Regions from separate parts of the Homo sapiens genome. Here region 1 is linked to region 2. Evidence: fine-mapped expression QTL. A gene starts in region 2. The other region holds a variant in brackets. All regions are shown on one strand. Distances are between the middles of the regions. Region 1 overlaps FBP2 (fructose-bisphosphatase 2). Region 2 holds the start of FBP1 (fructose-bisphosphatase 1).

Region 1 (12,101 bases), 51 kb after region 2:
ATATAATTTTTCCAGTTATTATAATGATACCAAGTGCAGTGGCTTGTTGCATTAAAATATGTATTGTGTTATCATGACTTGTACTTGCACAGAGAGAGTCTCACTGGAACAAAGAAGTAGAGGGGTGACGTGAAATATCTCTTTATGCCTCTTGCAGACATGAGTGTTTTATTGTAATAAGCTTTGCAAATATGTTAGGAGCTGGAAATTATGTACGACATAGGAAGCTTGGTAGAGCCCCTTCCTGCATCTGCTCTCTCATCATCTAAAGGAGTGTTTTGCTGGCTACGTGTTTTATTTCTTCTCTGTGACTCTTTCTTTATCTTCACCTCCACTTGGTGTGCAGGAAGCCGGGAGGTGCTAGTCCTGGGAGGGGAGCGCAGAGGTTTCTTCCACAGGGTTCTCTTTGGTGCTTTATCCGAGCATAGATGAGGCCAGGTTCACATTACACTGCTGATGGTCACAGCCCAGTGTCCAGTTTAAGTCTGTAATAAAAAGAATCCGGTGGCCAGGCACGGTGGCTCCTGTCTGTAATCCTGGCACTTTGGGAGGCCAAGGTGGGTGGATCATGAGGTCAAGAGATCAAGACCATCCTGGCCAACATGTTGAAACCCTGTCTCTACTAAAAATACAAAAATTAGTTGGGTGTGGTGGCGGGCGCCTGTAGTCCCGGCTACTCGGGAGGCTGAGGCAGGAGAATCGCTTGAACCTGGGAGATGGAGGTTGCGGTGAGTCGAGATCGTACCACTGCACTCCAGCCTGGGTGACAGGACGAGATTCCATCTCAAAACATACAAACAAACAAACAAAACCCCAGCTTTCTTTGGGCTTCCCTTGTAGTAATTCCAGGGGAGGTCCTCTCAGGAGCTGAAGGAACACATATTTTGGGGATGAAAGAGACTCAAAATGAGGAGCTAACAAAGTCCAATCATTTAAAATATTTACTCTGAGCAATTAAGTGCTTTTAACACAAAAAGTGATAGCATTAGATTACAAGATGTAATTATCATTTGATCACCACAGACTGTATTTATTTAGGGGTGGTGACCCAGTAGCAGGACCCAGGTTAACGGTGCATTATCCTTGCTTTTTTCCTGTGGGTGGATGCTTCAGCTCTGTTTTTACCTCATTTGGCAATAACAGCCACGCTCTGCATTTAATCGCCTTCCAGAATGTGAGGGCAGGCGGTGCCCTGTTCTGCTCCTGTGGGTGACAGCCCTGCTGAGTGACGGTAGACAGGGACTTTGCCTCTCCCTGTGCGGACCCTGCTATCCTCAATGCGGTTGCCTGAGTCCATCTCAGGGTGATTCATCCACATAAATTGGGCTCCCCCTCTGTGCAGGGCTCTTGGCTAGGCAGTGGCTGCCATGGTAGGGGTCTTGCTTATCTGCTGCAAAACTCTGACTTTATGGCGGTTGAGCAAGGAGACAAAGTGGCCCTAGGAACTGGATAATTGAGGTGCTTATTAATTTGGCATTTCCTACCGTGTGATAATGGGCGTGATTTACTCTTGCTAGGACCTTAGATTCCCTTTGTGAAATGGAGAGTATAGTAGCATCCCTAACTCTTAGGGTTGTTGCAGAGTTAGCGAGCGCATGTGATGACGATTTCAACTGTGCCGGCCCCGTAAGACACGCACAGTGCCTGTCACTACCGCGGTTCCAAGCCCAGACCAGATTTGCCTGTGCCTGAGCCGTCAATGACCACTGGCGGCATTTGAGGAGCCTTTCAGCCCCCCACTGCACTGTGGGAGCCACTTTCTGGGCTGGCCAAGGCTGGAGCCCACTCCCTCAGCTTTCAGGGAGGTGTGGAGGGAGAGGTGCGAGCGGGAACTGGGGCTGCGTGCGGCGCTTGCGGGCCAGCTGGAGTTCCGGGTGGGCGTGGGCTTGGCGGGCCCGCACTCCGAGCAGCCAGCCAGCCCTGCTGGCCCCCGGCAATGGGGGACTTAGCACCCGGGCCAGTGGCTGCGGAGGGTGTACTGAGTCCCCCAGCAGTGCTGGCCCACTGGCGCTGCGCTCGATTTCTCGCTGGGCCTTAGGTGCCTTCCCGCGGGGCAGGGCTCGGGACCTGCAGCCCGCCATGCCTGAGCCTCCCATCCACTCCATGGGCTCCTGTGCGGCCCGAGCCTCCCCGACGAGCGCCACCCCCCGCTCCACAGCGCTCAGTCCCATCGACCACCCAAGGGCTGAGGAATGCGCGCGCACGGCGCAGGACTGGCAGGCAGCTCCACCTGCAGCCCCGGTGCGGGATCCACTAGGTGAAGCCAGCTGGGCTCCTGAGTCTGGTGGGGACGTGGAGAGTCTTTATATCTAGCTCAGGGATTGTAAATACACCAATCAGCACCCTGTGTTTAGCTCAAGGTTTGTGAGTGCACCAATCGACACTCTGTATCTAGCTGCTCTGGTGGGGCCTTGGAGAACCTGTGTGTGGAAACTCTGTATCTAACTAATCTGATGGGGACGTGGAGAACCTTTGTATGTAGCTCAGGGATTGTAAACGCACCAATCAGCGCCCTGACAAAACAGGCCACTCGGCTCTACCAATCAGCAGGATGTGGGTGGGCCAGATAAGAGAATAAAAGCAGGCTGCCTAAACCAGCATCGGCAACCCGTTTGGGTCTCTTTCCACACTGTGGAGGCTTTGTTCTTTCGCTCTTGCTGCTGCTCACTCTTTGGGTCCACGCTGCTTTTATGATCTGTAACACTCACCGCGAAGATCTGCAGCTTCACTTCTGAGCCCAGTGAGACCACGAGCCCACTGGGAGGAACGAACAACTCCAGATGCGCCACCTTAAGAGCTGTAACACTCACCGCGAGGGTCCGCGGCTTCATTCTTGAAGTCAGTGAGACCAAGAACCTACCAATTCCGGACACACCACCACCCAGGCAGGGGACCGCAAGCCCCTGGCTCCTTTTGGGGAGATCTTTCTAGCAAGGGCTCCGTGAATGCAATTTAAAAGTTATGAGAGTCTCCTTTTCCCCTTCTCTTTCCTCTTCTTATGGTGGGAACAAGAGAGGCTGGAGTGCCCGCCTGGAGCCTCTCCTTGGCTTTCTCATGGCCGTGGGGGATCATTCCTTTAGAGACTGTTAGTTAGCTTTAGTGTCAGTCAGAACACTGCAAGATACTGTCCTACGGGCTAGAGAGCCCCTTTCCCCCATCATCTCAGGTGAAGCTATTGCCGGGAACTCACATCTCCTGGTGAGTTTCCATTCTTTCTAGGAGGAGGGGTGCTGCCCAGTGCCTGGAGAGAGGGTGCAGGGGGTCGGCTGAGGGGTGGGGTTAGGCGGATGAGGGGGCATTTGCAAAGCGCAGGACAGAGGCTGTTTCTCAGCTCTGCCCACCGCAGGCCTGGGCCTGCTGTTCATCCTCCAGTGGCAAGCGCATTCAGATTCCATATCGAACCAAGGCCTGTGTTTGTGGTCCCCTGAAACTCAGATGCAGTCAGCCTAGTTTTGTTGCTGCTGTTGCTTGCTTGCTTTTGTCTTGACCAGGAGGCACAGTCTTTGGGGTGAGGCTGCTAGGAGTGTTTTCCAAGACAGCTGACTGCTCACGTCATGGTTCCTCAGACACCAAATGATGTGCTGTGGGTGGGGGTTGGTGTTGGGGGGTGAGGTGGGGGTGCTGTTCAGGGAAGAGGGTGGGAAATGAGTTTGCCCCCAGCTTAAGGTAGATCAGTGGTTCTCAACCCTGGCTACCTGTTAGAACCACCTGAGATTTCCTTCAACAAATAAATAGCATTCACATCAGTAGGCAAAGGAAATTCCTTTCTTGCCATCCTTTCCTCATAACTCAGTGAGCAGACATGGAGCATGGGCTGTGTGTCTGGGCACTGCAGAAACAGACAGAAGGATGGATCCTGCCCTCTGCAAGCAGGTCATGCAGCAGGAAGCCAGTCCGTGAGTGTGGTGAACACTGAGGAGGGATGATGGGGTGTTTCTGGTGTGTGGGGCCCACTTGAGAGGACCAGGGAGGCGTCCCAGAGAGGAAAAGGAGGAATAGCAGGAAGAAAGCCGGGCAGAGAGCACTGCTGTGGTGGGAACACCATTAGTGAAGGCGAGAAGGACCAGAGCCGCTTGCTGGGTGCTGGCCCAGGGACATCTGCGGCTGTTGGAACGTGAGAGGGTGGCGGGGTGGCTGAGCCTTGCTGTAGTGGTGCAGGGTGGACACATGAAGGATACGGCTTCCCTCAGAATGGAAAAAAAAATCCTGCCATTGTGGAAGCTCACAGACAATAAACAGGACCTAGATGGTGGTCAGGGCAGAGGAGAAAATGCATCGAGTAAGATGTTGGGGACCAGGGAATGCTGCTCCAAACAGACGGCCAGAGAAGGCACTACTGAGAGATGATCCTTGAGCCAAAGCTTGACTGGGGTGGCCGTCACATGGCTCTTGAGGAAGAGTGTCCCAGGTGGGGCAGCAAGGCCACTGGGCAGTCAGTCACAAGGCAGGTGTGTGCCTTGGAGGTTTCAGAGGCTGGGGCTGACCCTGTGAGGATGAGAGAGACGGGCAGCCATGCCAACCCGGGCGCAGAGATTCCACGGTGGTGCCTGACACCCACTTGCGGGGACTTGGATTTTGCCTCTGGGTAAGACTGGGGGCACTTTAGGAGGACCCCTCCTGCTGGTGTGTTGAGAACCCCCTGAAGGGGCGAGGGTGGAAGTGGGGAGACCTTTGCATATGAATGCTCTAAAACCCAAAGCCTCTAGATAGAATTATTTTGAGGGTCTCCCTCCATCGCTCAGGCTGCAGTGCAGTGGCGTGATCACAGCTCACTGCAACCTCCACCTCCCCAGGCTTAGATGATCCTTTCATCTCAGCCTCCAAAGTAGCTGGGACTACAGGTGTGTGCCACCACATCCAGCTAATTTTTGTATTTTTTTGTAAAGACAGGGTCTCACTGTGTTGCCCAGACTGGTCTTGAACTCCTGGGCTCAAGCGACCTACACGCCT[T/C]GGCCTCCCACAGTGCTGGGATTACAGGCACGAGGCCCTGGCCCTGACTGGCATAGAATTCTCGTAGTAGCACTCTCTTATACTGCTTGGGATGGCAGTGAAGAAAAAAATGAAATAAGTCTGCCCCCACATTTCCTTCTCAGTTCAAGTAACACCAAGCTACCACAGGGCAATTTTAATTCATTCCAGCAGGGCACTGTGTGAGGACAATCCACAAAGACTTGAAATTCCAGGGCTTGGCCGGGCATGGTGGCTCATGCCTGTAATCCCAGCACTTTGGGAGGCTGAGGCGGGTGGATCACCAGGTCAGGAGATCAAGACCATCCTGGCTAACATGGTGAAACCCCGTCTCTACTAAAAATACAGAAAAAAATTAGCCGGGCGTGGTGGCGGGCGCCTGTAGTCCCAGCTACTCCGGAGGCTGAGGCAGGAGAACGGCGTGAGCCCAGGAGGCGGAGCTTGCAGTGAGCAGAGTTCGTGCCACTGCACTCCAGCCTGGGCGACAGAGCAAGACTCCGTTTCAAAAAAAAAAGGAAAAAAGAAAAAACAAATTCCAGGAGCTGGAGGCCACAGTCCTTTACTTTTGGAGTCCTCAGTTATGGCAATGGGTCTGATTTGATGAGTCCCCCCATCTGCTCCATCTCCTCGTGCTGAGACTGGGTTTGTGTTTTAGTGAGACTGAGTCCTGGGTCATCTCATTGGAAGGCTAAGAAAATATGACAACGACTCCAAGGTGTAAGGGAGGCAAGGCTGAGAGGTATCCTGCCAGGCATAATCGCCTTCTTCTGCACGTGTGACTTGGAGACTCCAGAGACACAGAACGAGAGGGGACTGCACTGCTGGCGTTTTAGGGTCCCAGGCTCTTTGCTGGAGTTAAGACCCCCTAGTGACTTCCTCATTCAGCCTTTTGTCTTCTCAGGTATGGAATCGCAGGAAGCGTTAACGTGACGGGAGATGAGGTGAAGAAACTGGATGTGCTATCCAATTCCCTGGTGATCAACATGGTCCAATCCTCCTATAGTACCTGCGTCCTGGTCTCAGAAGAGAATAAGGACGCCATCATCACCGCCAAGGAGAAGCGGGTGCGTCATGGGGCTGCGGTGCCCGCTCGCCAGTAGATGATGATACTGAGCCGGAAATAAGCTGCCTTACTTTTCTTTAATTCCCGGGATTCTCCTCTATTTCTTAACATTTGTTTTCTGGAAACAAAGGATTACATACTTCTCTACTTGGAAATCTTGTGCTGTCTAGAGAAAGAAGACTCCACAGTAGGACAGTGATTCATTCAGGAAATTGTTCAGAGTGATGCAGGAACCGCCTCAGTGGGCGCTTGTTCGTGGCTGTTCACTTAATCAGTAACAAGAGCCAAATTTTTGGGGGCTTAACCTTGTGGAGTCCAGGGAAGAGCTGTACTGTACAGCCTCTCACCGCCCCGCCTTCTCATTCCACCCCCGCCCCCAGCCGGCACTTTGCGAGGGGTTACAGTTTCAGCAGAGATTTCTTAGTGCCTGACAAGCTGTTAGACTGGTCCAGAAACAAAACCACAAGCCTCCTGTGCTCTTACCTCGTAGGATGGTGAAGTCGGTGAAGGAAGGCACGGCTGGGGAGGGTCTGCATTCACTATGGGTTCACACACAGCTTATTATACAGAGAGGTTTGCCAATGGCCAAAAGTTTCAATCAATGTTCAGCTGCAATATAGTCAATAGACAAGAGGCCATTTCTTTGTGATTAGCTGGAGGAATGGAAAAGAATTTAAAGTAAAGCCAAATTTATTTAACCTCTGCTCTATGCCAGGTACTGCAAAAGGCACTTTTGCCCTCGTCTCACATAATTTTAGCTACATCACACTATTACTTCCAACTTTCAGTTTCAGTTGATATGACTCTTGTTTCTCTCTCCAGTCTGATCTACCATTGTCTTCTCCTATTGGCCTAAGCCACATAGCCACATAGGTCTTCATGTCAGTTCCTTTATTTATTTATTTACTTATTTATTTATTTTTTTGAGACGGAGTCTTGCTCTACTGCCCGGCTGGACAGGCTGGAGTGCAATGGCGCAATCTCAGCTCACTGTAACCTCTGCCTCCCGGGTTCAAGCAATTCTCCCGCCTCAGCCTCCTGAGTAGCTGGGATTACAGGCATGCGCCACCATGCCCCGCTAATTTTTGTGTTTTTAGTAGAGACGGGGTTTCGCCATGTTGGCCAGGCTGGTCTTGAACTCTGACCTCAGGTGATCCACCCGCCTCAGGCTCCCAAAGTGCTGGGATTACAGGCGTGAGCCACCATGCCTGGCCCGTGGCAGCTCTTGAATACTCCAAACCTGCTGATCTCTCTGTCGAAAATTCTTCTTTCTAGGATGGGCGCGGTGGCTCACGCCTGCAATCCCGGTGCTTTGGGAGGCTGAGGTGGGAGGATTGCTTGAGCTCAGGAGTTTGAGACCAGCCTAGGCAACATAAAGATACAAAAGATAAAAATTTAGCTCGGCATGGTGGTGTGCACCTGTAGTCCCAGCTACTCGGGAGTCTGAGGTGGGAGAATTGCTTGAGCTCAGGAGTTTGAGACCAGCCTAGGCAACATAAAGATACAAAAGATAAAAATTTAGCTCGGCATGGTGGTGTGCACCTGTAGTCCCAGCTACTTGGGAGTCTGAGGTGGGAGGATTGCTTGAGCCCAGGATCTCTAGGCTGCAGCGAGCTCTGACCACACCACTGCACTCCATCCTGGGCAACAGAGTGAGACTCTGTCAAAACAAAACAAAAACAAGAAAACAAACAATTTTGCTTTCTAGGTCTCTGTGTGTTTCTTCATTCCTTAATTCTAGTCAGGTCTGTCATCAAATGTGACCCCCCCTCATGGCTCTCCAGCCCCCAGCCTATGTGGGTTTTCGTTAGGGCACGTGCCACAGCCTGCTTGTATGTGTCCTGACCTGTGTGCTCTCTGTCTGTTCTCCCACTGGAATGTCAGTGCCATGAAATCCAGCCTTGCTGCCGGGATCGCTGACCCCCCGGAAACAAACCCCAGGGCCTTGAACACTTACTTCCCAGCATATGCTGGAAGCTCAACATGTATCTGCTGAATGCATGCATGCATGAATGAATGGGCTAAATTGGATTTTTTTTTAAAAAATTGGATTATTATAGAGATGTTGGGGAATTTCCAAGTTTACAAATTATCTAACTTTTCTACTCTGGCTGAGCAAGGAAAAAAAACAGAAACAAAGCTCAAATGAAGCTAGGCCAATACTCATTGGAAAGTCAGGGAAAACTAAATCAAGTGGAGGGAGAAATGACCCTCATTTCTCTTGAAGTTGCATTACCCGTGTTTAATTGGCCTGGGGGTTCCGGTCGCCATCACTAAGGGTCTCTCGTGACCTTGCACACAGGGGGCTATAAAAAGGACCTGGGGCTTCCCTTGGTGGCTTGAGCTGCCTGTGACAGCAGAGTGGGTGGGTGTGGGGGACGTTGGTCTCTCAAGACACACCCACTTTATCTTCTGGTCTTCGCATCAGACAGGTGAGATGGATACAAAACCCAGAGGAGTATTTGTGTATAAACTGGCACCCTGCCCTCCGTAAGTCATGGTGTTTTTTGATAAAGATATGCTGTGGTTCTCAATCTCTTTTTGATGTGGTGTACTCTGCCACGCACAGCCCTGACACAGAGCAATTGTGCTAATGGGAAGATGTGCTGATCAGTTGGTGCTTTCCTCTCTGATTTAGGGGAAATACGTGGTCTGCTTTGACCCACTGGATGGATCTTCCAATATTGACTGCCTGGCCTCCATCGGAACCATCTTTGCCATCTATAGAAAGGTGAGTAGACAGGCTGACATTTTACACCTCCTTCCTGTGGTGGTCTCTGGAAGGTTCCTGGGCTGAAAACCGTGTGTTTGGAGTCCTACCCTTTGTCTTCCCACTAACGAGAAAAGCCACTGTAGGCAAACCACCAACTTTTCTCTGCCTGGGGCTCCTCATTAGAAGAACTGGATTGGCGATTCTTTCTCTGCCTACTTTCTGGCATTCCTGGGAGGGTAACACAGAAGGACAGCTGAGATCTTGTTTTGAAAGTCTGGGTGCAACACAAATGTCAGACATGGCATTAGGTTCCAGGTGGCATTCTGAATCTCTGACATCCTCTCCCCCTCTTGCCTCATCTCTCCTGTCCCCAGCCACAGAAAGTTTTCTGCTAACGCTCATTGGATTAGATTGAACTAATCTAACCTGGAAGGTCCACGGTGATCTCCCTATTTGAAATCTGAACCCCTGAGTACACCTGAAAAGTCTTTGTTGCCATGTAATGCTGGGTATTCACAGATCCTGGGGACTGGCATATCTTTTGGGCCATTCTGCCTACCCTGAAATCCTAGCAACAGAGAGCTGGGTGGGTTTGTGACATCCAGCAGGACTAGAAACTTCACAATTCAGAAAACTTGTCCTTCATTCTATATAAAGTGTACAACGGCAATAAAATCCATAGCAACCTCGCCAGCTGCGGTGGCTCACGCCTGTAATCCCAGAACTTTGGGAGGCTGAGGCGGGCGGATCACTTGAGGCCTTGAGGCTAGGTGGTCGAGACCAGTCTGGGAAACATGGTGAAACCCCGTCTCTACTAAAAATACAAAAATTAGCCAGGGTGATGGTGCACGCCTGTAATTCCAGCTACTCAGGAGGCTGAGGCAAGAGAATTGCTTGAACCCAGGAAGTGCAGGTTGCAGTGAGCTGAGATCATGCCACTGCACTCCAGCCTGGGTGACAGAGCAAGACTCTCTCAAACAAACAATCCATAGCAACCAAAGAGAAAAATAAGCAGAGTGCCAGTTACATTGTATTTGAGAGTCTTCTATGTATTAGGAAGTTGATTAAACCGTGCTCTTACAGAGTCTTGAGATAGGGAATCTATGGCAGAAATATGAGTATTTAAGGCCTGTATAGTTTGGGTTATATTGTGAGAATAATCTGGTAGATATCTAATTCTCAGCCTTAATTCATGCACAAGTGTTGCCTTGGGTTGTAGTTAGGATATCTAAAGCCATATGATTTAAAGACATTGTGGGATTAAGACATAGTAGCAGTTTGCTTTTCTGTGTCTTGTGGGGCTGAGGGTATGTTTTGGGCATTATTCAGGAAGTATGTACAGCACTTAGTTTTACTTATACTTCATGGTCCCCACTGTCAATTATATTTGGGGTTCCTGTGGGGCTTGACAACAGGTTGGCAAAATATACATATTTAACAGGCTGGGCATGGTGGCTCATGCCTGTAATCCCAGCATTTTGGGAGGCTGAGGTGGGTGGATCACCTGAGGTCAGGAGTTTGAGACCAGCCTGGCCAACATGGTGAAACTCCATCTCTACTAAAAATACCAAAAATTAGCTGGGCATAGTGGCGGGCGCCTATAATCCCTGCTACTCAGGAGGCTGAGACAGGAGAATTGCTTGAACCCGGGGGCAGAGGTTGCAGTGAGCTGAGATTGCGCCATTGCACTCCAGCCTGGGCAACAAGAGTGAAACTGTGTCTCAAAAAAAAAAAAAAAAAAAAAGGGGGCTGGGAAGGGTGGCTCATGCCTGTAATCCCAGCAATTTGGGAGGCCGAGGCGGGCGAATCACGAGGTCAGGAGATCGAGACCATCCTGGCTAACATGGTGAAACCCTGCCTCTACTAAAAATACAAAAAAATTAGCCGGGCGTGGTGGTGGGTGCCTGTAGTCCCAGCTACTTGGGAGGCTGAGGCAGGAGAATGGCGTGAACCCAGGAGGCAGAGCTTGTAGTGAGCCAAGATCGCGCCACTGCACTCTAGCCTGGGTGACAGAGCGAGACTCCGTCTCAAAAAAAAAAAAAAAAAATTAGCCAAGAGTGGTGGCATGTGACTGTGGTCCCAGCTACTCGGCTGAGACATGAGAATTGCTTGAACCTGGAGGTGGAAGTTATAGTGAGTTGAGATTGCACTGCTGCACTCCAGCCTGGGCAACAGAGCAAGACTCCCTCTCAAAACAAACAAACTATACACACACACACACACACACACACACACACACACACGCACACACACACATATTTAACAGATTATAGGAGGAGCTATGAATATTTATGAAGATGGTCCTGACATATGTGTATTGAATAAATATGCATGTATGACCCATGTTTATTTTGGGGTGGAATGTATTCCATTTAGGTCCTGTATATCAAAAGATCTTTCTAGGACATAAAGGCACACAGTGTGTGCTTTCTGTAAACTGGCCAGACCTAGCCCATGGTTGGTGGTCTTTTATCAGGAGAGCTACTGAAATTTAGTCTTTTGTCTAATTAAAGCTGTAGTCTTGGCTGGTGGAACAAGAGCCTGGGGGTGAGTTAGTCAGCTGATCTTAAGGCCAGCGCTTGTTTGGCTGCTAGAGAAAAAGAAAAACCTATGGCAGTTAGGACATGGTTTCCTCTTCAAAATAGGAGTGAGTGACTAACCCTTGCCTGGCGTGGCCTTAGGTCCCGTTTCTAATTGGGTATTTTATTGTGACAAACAGCCTATTTTGTCAATCTTAGGGTTTTCAGTTGTGCCTAATTCCAAAAAGTGGGGGAAGGTATAGGGAGGCCTGTCTGATCCCGCTTCCTGCCATGGCCTGAACTTGTTTTTCAGTTTATCTGGGGATTTCCTTCGGCCAAGAGGCAGGTCCATTCAGTCTGTTGAGAGGCTTAGGATTTTATTTTAGTTTATATTCTCCCTTTTTTGTCAAGGTATTCCGGGGGCAGTATTGATGGCCAAGCTTTTATTTTGTCCCATGTGGATGCTGGGGTGGTATGGTTACCTTCCCAGGGTCCATGATGTTCCTCGATGGGACCCCTATGGCCCAGGGACTTAGAGTCAAAACAGTGGAAGCCAGTTAAATGTTCCAGGCCAGATGGGAATGGAGGTGGCCAGGCATTCATTAACCTTAAAACCCCTTTTAAGCAATGTAAAAGCCAAAAACCCAAAGCCAAAAGGCAAGCTTCCAAAATTGACTTATCTACAAATCTATACATCGAGCTACTGTGAGCTTGGCTAGTAGCACTTAGCTGCACAAAACACAAGCCTTTTGTTCAGCTGTTGAAGCCTCTCTGTGTCCGTCCTGGATTTGGAGGCTCTGAATTAATTTGATCCCATAAGACTGGCCCTTACTATGTC
Region 2 (12,101 bases):
GATTAGAAGCCACCCCAGAGTGGTTCTGGATTGATTAAAGGCTGCTTCTGAAGCCCTGGGCAAGTGCCACACCCTTAGCAAGTGCTAAATAGATGTTTGCTGTTTAGTTTCCACACCAGGCCCCCGGGGCCACAGGAGCTGGGGGAGGTGTTTAAGGAAGGACCATGCTACTGCAATCCCTCTCACATACACCACTTGGCTTTTGTTTTTCTTTTTGTGTTTTTGTTAGAGACACACTCTCACTCTATTGCCTAGGCTGGAGTGCAGTGCTGTGATCACGGCTCACCGCAGCCTCGACCTCTTGGGCTCAAGTGATCCTCCTCCTTCAGCCTCTCCAGTAGCTGAGACTACAGGCATGCGCCACCACTCCTGGGTAATTTTTAAATTTTTTTAGAGACAGTGTTTTCCTTATGTTGTCCAGGCCGCTTTTAAAATTCCTGGGCTCAAGTGGTCTGTCTGCCTCGGCAACCCAGAGCATTGGGATTACAGGTGTGTGCACTGTGCCTGGCCTGTTTTTCTTTCCTGTGGCACTAACCGCCCCCACAGAGGGGAAAGTAAGCAGTGGAGCCCTGGGTTGAGGGCGGCTGTTGTAGGGGCAGGGACTGTCCACACTGTTACTTCTCCACTGCCCGCCTCCAACATAACCCCATCGTGGGAGCTGGGTGAGGAAATGCATGAGCACTGATTCTTCGCAGGATTTCGAGTGTTACACATGTGGTAATACTGCTCACATCACTTGAATCTGCAATCCCATGTGAAGTTGGAGTATGTGGCAAGAAGCAACTCTGCGAGGGTGGTGGGTGGAGGAGGGAGGGGCCCAACCCACAGGCCAGGAACCCATGTGAGGTGGCCGCCTTCCTCTGTCTCTTGCTAATACCTGGGTGATGGGCTTTATGCATCTTGACCCAGAAAAGAGCGAGTCACAATCGACCAATATGATGGAGGGGATATCACTGCACACCAGGCAAATACAGGCTCAGCTGCCAATTCCCACATCCCTCTAGCCCCTTTTGATGGCCAGGGAACTTTCTTGCTTCTGTTCACATGAAAACAACAGTTGGCCCTACCCATGTAACGAAGCAAACACTTACATACTGTGTACTTACTACATGCTGGGCACTGTTCTTAAACACTACCAGCACTGCCTGTATAATTCTCCCAGCAACCCTATGAGGTGGCTACAATCATTAGCCCCAGTTTACAGATGAGCCAATGGTTGCTTGGTGAGGTTTAGCCAATTGCACAGGCTTGCACAGCCAGTAAGTGGCCAGGCCAGGGTTTGGACCCAAGCCATGCAGCCCCAGAGTCTGTGCACTTCACCACAATGCGACGTGGCCTAGTCCCAAGGGGAATGGCTTGCCTTGTAGGCAATGAGCTGCCCATCATCGTGGGTGACAAGCAGAAGTGACTGAGCTAGACAGGGGTCTCCTCCACGTATTCAGTGTGTCCCCTGTGTGTAGCTCTGAGCTAAGCACTCTGCCAATGCCATCTCATTTCAGCCCGATGACACCACTGCCAGATGGAACCATTATTCCACTATATGGATGAACAAACTGGGTTTACAGAGATTAGGTAACTGGTCCGAGATCTCTGGCTGCTGAGGGCTGGAGCTGGGACTCAAACAAGTTTGCTTAATGCAGATCCCAAGCTCTTCACCTCTTATCAGGGATGGTGTCCAATGAGGGTTGGCTGGACTAGATGACTTTTACGGTCCTAGCCAATCCAAGATCCTGAGGGACTGAGAGTCTGGCAAGTAAAGGGGCACACTCCCCTAGTTACTAGCTCTAGCTCTCCCCTAGTAACTAGTTACTATGCCAAAAATACTAGTCATCACATTTCAGTTCTTTTTTTTTTTTTTGAGATTGAATCTCGCTCTGTTGCCCAGGCTGGAGTGCAGCGGCAGGATCTTGACTCACTGCAACTTCTGTCTCCCGGGTTCAAGCGATTCTCCTGCCTCAGCCTCCTGAGTAGCTGGAATTACAGGTGCACACCACCATGCCCGGCTAATTTTTTATTTTAGTAGAGATGGGTTTCACCATGTTGGCCAGGCTGGTCTTGAACTCCTGACCTCAAGATCTGCCCGCCTCAGCCTCCAGTTTGTTTGTTTTTCTTTTTTTTTTTTTTTTTTGAGATGGAGTTTTGTTCTTGATGCCCAGGCTGGACTGCAATGGTGCCATCTCTGCTCACTGCAATCTCCGCCTCCCAGGTTCAAGCGATTCTCCTGCCTCAGCCTCCTGAGTAGCTGGAATTACAGGCATGCACCACCATGCCCAGCTAATTTTTGTACTTTTAGTAGAGACGGGGTTTCTCCATGTTGGTCAGGCTGGTCTCGAGCTCCCAACCTCAGGTGATCTGCCCGCCTCGGCCTCCCAAAGTGAAGTGCTGGGATTACAGGTGTGAGCCAGTGAGCCGGGCCTATTTGAGTTTTTATGTTTAAGGATGTATTTCTCTTACTATTTTTTTTAACACAGGGTTTTTCCTGAAAAGTTGCCTGAGGAACAAAGAGTTAAATAAGACCCTTAAAGGATCAACTCTCTTTGCCAGGCATCTAAGTCCCCTCTGGGGCTTTGAGGAGACAGTCGCTGTCTTTCCTGGTGGTACCACCACCTTCCTTCATTCAACGCCGCCGCATCTGACAACCCTGGGCACAGGAATCTGCACCCCAGGTCTCCACGGTGAATCCAGCAGTCAATTTTCAGAGCTTGTCCTGCCTGCCCCATCCACACCGCTTGGCACATGGGTCAGCCCGCCTTTACTTACCTTCTTCATCTGGCTTCCCGGATGTCACATCTCTTGGTTTTTGGTTGGTTTTTCCAGTTGGCTTTTCCAATTTATACCTGCAGCATGGATCTCTCCTCTGAACTCCAGATACATAAATCTGTCTATTTGACATTGCCTTGGATGTCTAGAAGGCATTTCAAACTTAGCAGGTCCCACACTTAGCTCCTAATTGTCAGTCCTGCCTCCAGCACACGCCCCTCTCGGTGTTCCCCATCGCAGTCGAGGACAACTGCATTCTTCTAGTTTCTCAGGCCTCAAACCTTAGAATCATCCGAGACTCCTGTCTCTCACATATCTCATCTGTCAACGAATCCCATCAGCTCTACCTTCAAAATATGTCCAGAATCCACCACCTCCACTGCTAACACCTGGCTCACTATCTCCTAGTAACCTGGAGGGCACTGTCTTCAGTCTGATCTTCACACAGTAGCCGCAGTATGAAGACACAGGGTAGACCATGCCTCTCTTCTTCTCCAAACTCTCCAGTGGGTTCCTCCTAGTCAAAGTCAAACCTCACTTGGCCCTCTAGACCTCACCTCTGCATCCTCCCGCTGGCCTTATCTCCTCCACCTCTGACCCTTGCTAGCTCTATTTCAGCTCCACCGGTCTCCTGGCCATTCCCTGAACCTGAAACATGGTCTCCTACCCCAGGGCCTGTGCACTGGCTCTCCCGGTGAGGAAACCGCTCTCCTTCCCATCTCCACCGGCGCGTTGCATCCTTCACCTCTTTGCTCACATATCCCTTTCTCAGAGAAGCTTTTACTGAGGCCTCTGCTCACCCTCTTCTCCCCTCCACATTCCGTGTCTTCCTTTTCTATTTCGTTTCTCTCTATGGTACTTATGGCTTATGTAACAAACTAATCTATTGTTTATATATTTATTTTTACTGTTTCTCTGTGAAAACGTACACTCGAAAAGGGCAGGAGTTTTGTCTGTTTGGATCAGGCTCCACCCCTGGAAGGTAGGACAGTGTTCAGCACAGCAGGTGCTCAATAGGTGTTGTTTCGTGAATCAGCACATCAATTGCAGCATTGTGGCTACCAGGGGGTCAGGATGCGGGCGGTGGAGCCCTCTGGCCTTTGTGTGGTAGCCGAGGACTCTGTGTCAGCGACCGTTTTCCGGGAAACTTCCGGGCGAGACTCACATCTTGGAAATTCAAATACTCAATAGCTCTCGAATTCTAGGAATCTTGAGAAGAGGCCTGGATTAAGGATTCAGACGTGGGCCCTCAGATGGGTGAGAAACGGGGACTCTGTGTCTCCTAGCGGGGACAGAAGGGCCAGGTGACAGGCCAGGCAGAGTGGACGGGGCTTGGGCAGGGGGCGGGGGCAGGCAGCCACACGGGGCAGGAGCTGCAGAGCTAAAGCCAGGCCATGTGGACTGGCTGCGGGTTTCGCTGCCTAGCTGGTGGCATTGAGCAAGTTACTTAACCTTTCTGAACTTCCGTTTTATGATTTTGGAGGAAACAGTCATAGCTTTCTCTCTGGCAGAGTCCGATGGCCCGAGTCCCGCTCCACAGTGCGGGTGGAGGGCACGGAGGGGTGTGTGTGGGGGGCGACAGCCCAGGAAGACTAGGGGGCGGCAGGGCGCGTGGGGGCGGGGGTTGGGAGACCGCAGGGAGGATCCCCGACCTTGTCTGAAGATCCAAGCAGGCGGAGCCGCGGTCTGGTCCGCGGGGTAGGCGGGGCGCAAGAGTGTTCCCGGGGGCGGGGGGCCGACCCGCGTCTAAAGGTTTCCGCGATTCACCCGCCGGCGCCTGGCCTGGCCCAGTTGCACCACGAGCGCTGCGGACACTCGGGGCGGCAGTCGGTCTGTCAGTCCTCCCGCCAGGTCCCGCGGCCCGCACCTGCCGCCCGCACCTGCAGCTCCGCACCTGCGGCCAGTGCCTACTGCCCTCTCTTGCCGCCCGCACCTGCAGCCCCGCACCTGCCGCTTGCACCTGCAGCCCCGCGCTCTACCCGGTTCAAGCATGGCTGACCAGGCGCCCTTCGACACGGACGTCAACACCCTGACCCGCTTCGTCATGGAGGAGGGCAGGAAGGCCCGCGGCACGGGCGAGTTGACCCAGCTGCTCAACTCGCTCTGCACAGCAGTCAAAGCCATCTCTTCGGCGGTGCGCAAGGCGGGCATCGCGCACCTGTGAGTCGGGCCTTGGGCGGTGGGCCCCGTCCTGTCTGTCTGCCTGGGGAGCCTGCCCGGCGGGCTGACGTTGGGCCCTCTGAGCCTCCTGCCGTCAGCCTCTGTCTGTCCGTCTGATGTCTGAGCGCCTCTCTCGCTCTCTGTCTGGTAGCCCCTCTCTCCAGAAGCTGGCTCAGCCTCACTCAAGTCCTCATCTCCTCCCTTGACCTTGGAGGGGCCCACCTGGGGGTCCGTCTCACAGGTGTACACCTGATTCCATCTTGCATTCCTCTTCTCTGCCCTGAGCAGCCTGCCTCGTACCCCTCTCAGCCGGCCAAGTGTGGGCACCTGGCCTGCCCGTCATACCCGCCCTAGCCTCAGACAGGAAAGTGCTAGCTCAGGTGCCTTCCTTCCCCATTTCTTCTTTGTCCTCCTTCACTCTTTCTGCAATTAGGGACCCAAGTCAGGTTTCTAATCCAGTTATCTCTGACCTGAAACAAGACCTGTTAGGAGCGAGTGTCCCCCCCGCCCCCCCCGCAAGCAGGCTGGGAGGTCTCCTGTGTGTCCAGAGCCTTTAGGAGCAGCAGGGCTTGTGTGCAAAGGAGCTCCCGTGGGCTGCCCCTTGCTGGGACAGTTGCCATGCTGTGCCAGAAACAGGAAACACCCAGGGCTTCAAAACCCCTATCGATTTGCAATGATGGTGTGTGCAGCCTCTGCCCAATTAGTGGAAAGCTCAAAAGTGGTTTGTAGAATGGTTCTGAATGCGCTATGGAGTGCATCTCGAACGTCACTGGGCACAGGAATCATTTGGGGATCTTGGTAAGATGTGTGCCCTCCTTCCATAGCTCTGGGACAGGTCCTGAGATTCTGCATTTCTAAGAAGTTCTCCTGTGGTGGGTGCTGCCCATCAGATACTGTTTGTCTACTCATCACATTGTGAGTAGCAAGGGGTCAAGTGGAGTGGAGACTCAAAGGACCCCTTCTTGTGAGGTTTTTTGTAAGTCACACAACATCCTTTCGTTTGTGTTGGTGTGCACAGGTATTTTCTTTTTCTTTTCTTTTTTTTTTTTTTTTTGAGATGGAATTTTGCTCTTGTTGCCCAGGCTGGAGTGCAATGGTGCGATCTTGGCTCACCGCAACCTCTGCCTCCCAGGTTCAAGCGATTCTCCTGCCTCAGTCTCCCGAGTAGCTGGGATTACAGGCATGTGCCACCATGCCCAGCTAATTTTGTAATTTTTTTTAGTAGAAACGGGGTTTCTCCATGTTGGTCAGGCTGGTCTCGAACTCCCGACCTCCGGTGATGCCTTGGCCTCCCAAAGTGCTGGGATTACAGGCATGAGCCGCCGTGCGCAGGTATTTTCTAGCTAACTGATCCACACTTTTAACTGAAGTGTAACTGGGTTTTCAGATTGTCCATACACTTTACTAACATTCCCCGCACTTATGCACACTATAAAAATGACACATGATGGGCTGGGCGCGTAGGCTCTAGCCTGTCATCCCAGCACTTTGGGAGGCCGAAACAGGTGGATTGCCTGAGGTCAGGAGTTCAAGACCAACCTGATCAACATGGTGAAACCCCGTCTCTACCAAAAATTAGCTGGGTGTGGTGGCAGGCGCCTGTAATCCCAGCTACTCGGGAGGCTGAGGAAGGAGAATTGCTTGAACCCAGGAGGCAGAGGTTGCAGTGAGCCGAGATCGCATCATTGCACTCCAGCCTGCGCGACAAGAGCGTGACTTTGTCTTAAAAAAAAAAAAAAAAGACGCATGATGCTCAGAGCTGACCTGAACAAATACAACCCTGCTACTTGGGTTTGGAATGCATTTCTCCATTCTTAAAAACTCTTCTCCGCCCCGCATCCTGCAATCTAGATTCCTTTTCTTACTGGCAGGCTGTCTGGCTTTGGTCCCACAGTATGGACTGGTGGAGGTAATTCATGTAAAGGAGTGGTATGATCACATTTATTTTTGAATATTAAGCAGACATGTTAAGGAAGGTGATGACTCCATTACTGTTGCCTCTGGCCCCTCTTAATAATACATTCCTAAGGATTCTTATTTTAGAAACATACCCAGGTGAAATCTTAAGCTTTAATTTACAGCTAGTATAGGTGGCTCACAGCTTTAACTGCCTTTGAGGACCAGGGATATATTTTAAAAAGAGGGCTTGTCGACTGGGTGTGGTGGCTCACACCTGTAATCCCAGCACTTTGGGAGGCTGAGACGGGTAGATCACTCAAAGTCCAGGTGTTTGAGACCAGCCTGGCCAACATGGTGAAACCCTGTCTCTACTAAAAACACAAAAATTAGCCAGGCATGGTGGCAGGCGCCTGTAATCCCAGCTACTTGGGAGGCTGAGGCAGGAGAATTGCTTGAACCCGGGAGGCGGAGGTTGCAGTGAGCCCAGATCGTGCCACTCTACTCCAGCCTGGCGACCGAGTAAGACTCTGTCTCAAAAAAAGAAAAAAAAGGGCTTGTCATGTCTGATATTGTTTAAAAAATGTGTCAGTACCTTTCACACCCCTAGAGAGACTGAGAAATGTAAGATGTGTTTTGAGGTGTCCCACTGTCTAAGTAACCTTAGACAGTGGGACCTTGGATAGTGAGATTTTGATGGTGGGGCCTGGATGAAGCATGTTAATTTTGGCTACGTAAGGTATGCGTTTTATTTATTTATTTATTTTGAGATAGAGTCGCACTCTGTTGCCCAGGCTGGAGTGCAGTGGTGTGATAATGGCTCACTGCAGCCTCAACCTCCCAGGCTGAATTGGTGCTCCCACCTCAGCCTCCCCTGTAGCTGGGACTACAGGCATGTGCCACCATGCCGGATAATTTTTGTGTTTTTGTAGAGATGGGGTTTTGTTATGTTGCCCAGGCTGGTCTCAAATTCCTGGGCTCAAGCGATCTGCCCACCTTGGCCTCCCAAAATGCTGGGATTACAGGTATGAGCCACTGTGCCTGGCCAATATGTGTACTTTTATACTAGATAGTTGTGAATACCAGGTTTTAAAGAAATACTATGTTGCACTCATTGACAAAAATTTAAACCATTCAAAAGAATTCAAGGGAAGAGTGAAACCCACCCCATATATATCCCATGGGGTATCCACTGCAAATAATTTACTGCTTATTTTTCCGGATACTCTTTTACAGTCATATAAGTTTACACATGAACACATATTTACATATGCCTATAATAGCAGACAAAATGGGATCACAATACACATTTCTGTAGTTTGCTTTGTTATTTAACATTATTCAAGAAACATCCATTAATATCGGGACATCTACATCTACCTCCTTTTAACTGCTGTGTGCTGCTCCCCTGCACACATCATGAGGTATTGAAGTTTTTCTCTATTTTGGGGCACTTTGGTTTTTACTAGCCTTTGGGTATTACAGTGCTGTACCCTTGGAACTGGTGTGCATGCCTGGTTGTTGGGGTAGCTGACAGGACTAGATGCTGGACACTGAGGTGATCTTGTGGGAAGTTCAGCGTTTGGCCATTTTCAGTATCACATGTCATCAGGCAGGTAGCATGATTCTCAAGCCAGGCCCCCAACCTACATTCATTCCAGGCATTGAAATCCAGAAAGAAAAACCAGCATTCCTGCAAAGATCTTGTTAGTGCTGAAGACCGGACCTAGAAGAGCATGTACCCAGAGGGACGGGGTGATTGCAGATTTGCAGGAACCTCACTGGAGCCAGTTTAGGGAGCTCACCCAGGATCATTATGGAAACATCAGGAGTTTAAGCACAGAGCCTGGTGTAACCTAAAGTTGCTATTGTAGTCACTTTCATTGCTCCTGTTAAAATGTTCATGGAATCATTGAGTTTTAGACTGAAAGAGACTCAACAGTCAGCTAGTCTATCACCTCCTCATACAGAAGAGGACCCTGAGACCGAGGAAGATGAGATGACTTGGCCTGTGGCCGGGATCTCAGGAACCCCGGATTGGAGGTCTTTTGGCCACACTACACATCTCTTCCTTTATTTTTTAGAAATCAATTAGAATTCACCAAACTCTAAATCTCATCTATTAGTTAACTGGTTTTTTTTTTTTTTTTTTTTTTTTGAGACAGGGCCTCACTCTCACTCAGGCTGGTGTGCAGTGGTGCAATCTCAGCTTACTGCAACCTCTGCCTCCCGGGTTCAAGTGATTCTCCTGCCTCAATTTCCCGAGTAGCTGAGATTACAGGCGTACACTACCATACCTGGCTAATTTTTGTATTTTTAGTAGAGATGGGATTTTGCCAAGTTGACCAGGGTCGAACTGGCCTCAAGTGATCCACCTGCCTCGGCCTCCCAAAGTGCTGGGATTAGAAGTGTGAGCCACTGCGCCCGGCCTAATTTTTGTATTTTTAGTAGAGACAGGGTTTAGCCATGTTGGCCAGGCGACATTTTTGATGTGAATTCAGGCTTAGATACCAAGGAGTCATTGCTTTGGGCAAATGTGCCCTGGGAGACTTCCCTCTGGGCTTCTGGCTCCCTCCATCCACTCTTGGGAGAGAAACTGTGCAGATCAGAACAGTCTGCAACTTGAAGTCAAGCTGATGAAGTTGTGGTTCAAATGTCAAATTCGAGTGTTGTCCACTTTGCATTCCTTTGGGAGAAAGTGGTGCTCCAGTGGCTTCAGGTTTTTTGTTTTGTGGAGTTGACTTCCCTTTGTATCCATTTCCAAATCACTGACTGAAGAATTCACTGATTTCATTCAATTAACAAAATATTACTGAACATCCACCATGTACAAAGTTCCAGAAGACGAGAACAACACAGAGTTTACTCTGTAGGAAAAAATATTTGTATCGTTCTAACACGCAATAGAGGTTTTGAAAGATGCTTTCTTTTTCTTTCTTTTTTTTTTTTTTGAGGCAGAGTCTCGCTCTGTTGCCCTTGCTGGAGTGCAGTGGGGCGATCTCAGCTCACTGCAACCTCCGCCTCCCGGGTTCATGCCATTCTCCTGCCTCAGCCTCCCATAGCTGGGATTACAGGCGCCCACCACCAAGCCCAGCTAATTTTTTTGTATTTTCAGTAGAGACGGGGTTTCTCCATGTTGGTCAGGCTGGTCTCAAACTCCTGACCTCAGGTGATCTGCCCGCCCCGGCCTCCCAAAGTCCTGGGATTACAGGCGTGAGCCACTGCGCCCGGTCTGAAAGATGCTTTCGCGGTGGCTCACGCCTGTAATCCTAGCGCTTTGGGAGGCCGAGTCGGGCGGATCACGAGGTCAGGAGATCGAGACCATCCTGGCCAACACGGTGAAACCCCGTCTCTACCAAAAAATACAAAAAAATTAGCCGGGCGTGGTGGCGGGCGCCTGTAATCCCAGCTACTTGGGAGGCTGAGGCAGGAGAATGTTGTGAATCTGGGAGGCGGAGCTTGCAGTGAGCCGAGATCGCGCCACTGCACTCCAGCCTGGGCGACATAGGGAGACTCCGTCTCAAAAAAAAAAGAAAGATGCTTTCATAGAGGTGCCAAAAATACGATTCATGGTGAAGGACTGTGGAGCGCCAAGAATGGGCACGTGCAGGGGAAGCAAAAGGCCCGGCGGCTGGACCGCAGTTCAGGCTGGAGGTCACAGGGGGAGGAGTCCTGAGGTGGGAAAGTGTTTCTGGAAAAGTTGCCCACTCAATTTGACCAAAGCATGGAGTACTCATGGTAGGGCGTTCGTGGATGTGAAATTGTGGGTACATTGGGGAAGCATCAAATGGCAAGGGTGAACACTTTACACTTTTGGGGGTATAGAAAAGGAGAGATCAAGGATTTTGAAAGTTTTTTGAGTGGGGCAGTTGCGTGACTGGAGACAAATCTGGAGAAGGTGTGGCTGGAAGTATATCGGAAGAGCGAAAGATAGGATATGGGAAAACCAGTGGCAAGGGGGAGCCGTCAGTTGAGTAGCCAGCAGAGCTGCAGCCTTGGAGGGGAGAGGAAGGATTTGGAAGAAGTCTGAGCATGGATTAGATGAGAAGGGCTGTGAGGGAGTTTCTGAAATCGCTGGTCCTAGCAATTGAATGCAGAGCCCATGCCACCACAAAACAAAACAACACAAAAACAAAAACAAGGAGGAGCTGGTTTTTAGTCTGGGGAAGGAGGGAAGATGATCCCAACATTTTGGAAACGCTGAACTTGAGATGTTAGAGGGTGATCTGTTGGGAGATGCTGTCCAGCTGCAGGCTGTTTTGCCTGTCTGTTTTGGCACGCTTGCCCTGAGGCAGAGAAAAGAGGAGGAGATCTGGACCAGTTTAGCAGACAGGAATGTGCAGGGATTCAGAGCACGTTTTGGAGAGAGATGGAGCCAAGCTTAGATTCCTGGCCCTGCCATTCAACGTCTGTGAGGATTGGGCTGTTGATGTGACATCACTGAACCTGTTTCTCCAATTGTTAAGATGGAGACAGCCTCAGAGACTCGTAGGAGGATCAATTAAGTTTACTAATTGGGTACCAATGTTATTAATATCATTGTTTTCCTGAAGGCTATATTTCTTTATTTTTCAGACAGAGTCTAGCTCTGTCACCCAGGCTGGAGGGCTGTGGTGTGGTGTGATCTCGGTTCACTGCAACCTCCACCTCCAAGGTTCAGGTGATTTTCCTGCCTCAGCCTTCCAGGTAGCTGGGATTATAGGTTCCTGCCACCACACTCAACTAATTTTTGTATTTTTAGTAGAGACGGGGTTTCACTATGTTGGCCAGTCTGGTCTTGAACTCCTCACTTCGTCATCCACCCGCCTCAGCCTCCCAAAGTGCTGGGCTTACAAGTGTGAGCCACCGTGCCTGGTCTATTTTATTTTCATTTTTTTGTAAACTTTTATTTGCATGTTTTGTTCTTCATTTCTTAGCAGTAGCCTGTATGCTATCAGCAGGGAGAGAGTCCAGGCTAGCATGTTACATATTAGAACAATGTTGCACCCAAGAGTGGCTGCAGGAAATGTCCTCCCATCAGACTCATATTATGTCCAGAAGAGTTACTTTTATATATGGGGTCCTCTCAGCTGTTTGACAGAAGAAATAATAAAGAGCTTCAGATTTCGTTTTAGAATGACACGTCAGCTAATACACGTTTAGGCTTATCTTCCAATTTGCAGTTTTTGGCATTAAGCTTTTAGAAACTTTACCAGATTTATTTTATGTTTCTTGAATTCTCTTCTCCACATGACCAAGGAGTGAAATTGCAAGTTTGTTTGCATAAAAGAAGCGCAGACAGCCAC

Evidence for each region. PIP is the estimated chance that this variant, and not a neighbour inherited with it, causes the effect.
Region 1: its variant is the best candidate, but not a certain one, in a credible set for the expression of FBP1 in lung (TOPMed, PIP 0.57).

The regions. Positions count from the first base shown.
Region 1 is chr9:94,581,238-94,593,338 of GRCh38, reverse strand. It overlaps FBP2 (fructose-bisphosphatase 2), which reads left to right. Exons shown (of 7, transcript NM_003837.4): 2 at 5,870-6,032; 3 at 8,670-8,762. Among named protein-coding and RNA genes, the nearest start is that of FBP2, 6.5 kb to the left of the region's middle. RefSeq lists enhancers at 1,506-2,048, 4,827-5,326, 5,327-5,828. The variant T/C (reference allele first, on the strand shown) is at 4,951.
Region 2 is chr9:94,631,960-94,644,060 of GRCh38, reverse strand. It overlaps FBP1 (fructose-bisphosphatase 1), which reads left to right and starts at 4,543. Exons shown (of 7, transcript NM_000507.4): 1 at 4,543-4,920. The coding sequence starts at 4,751. RefSeq lists a silencer at 4,410-4,469.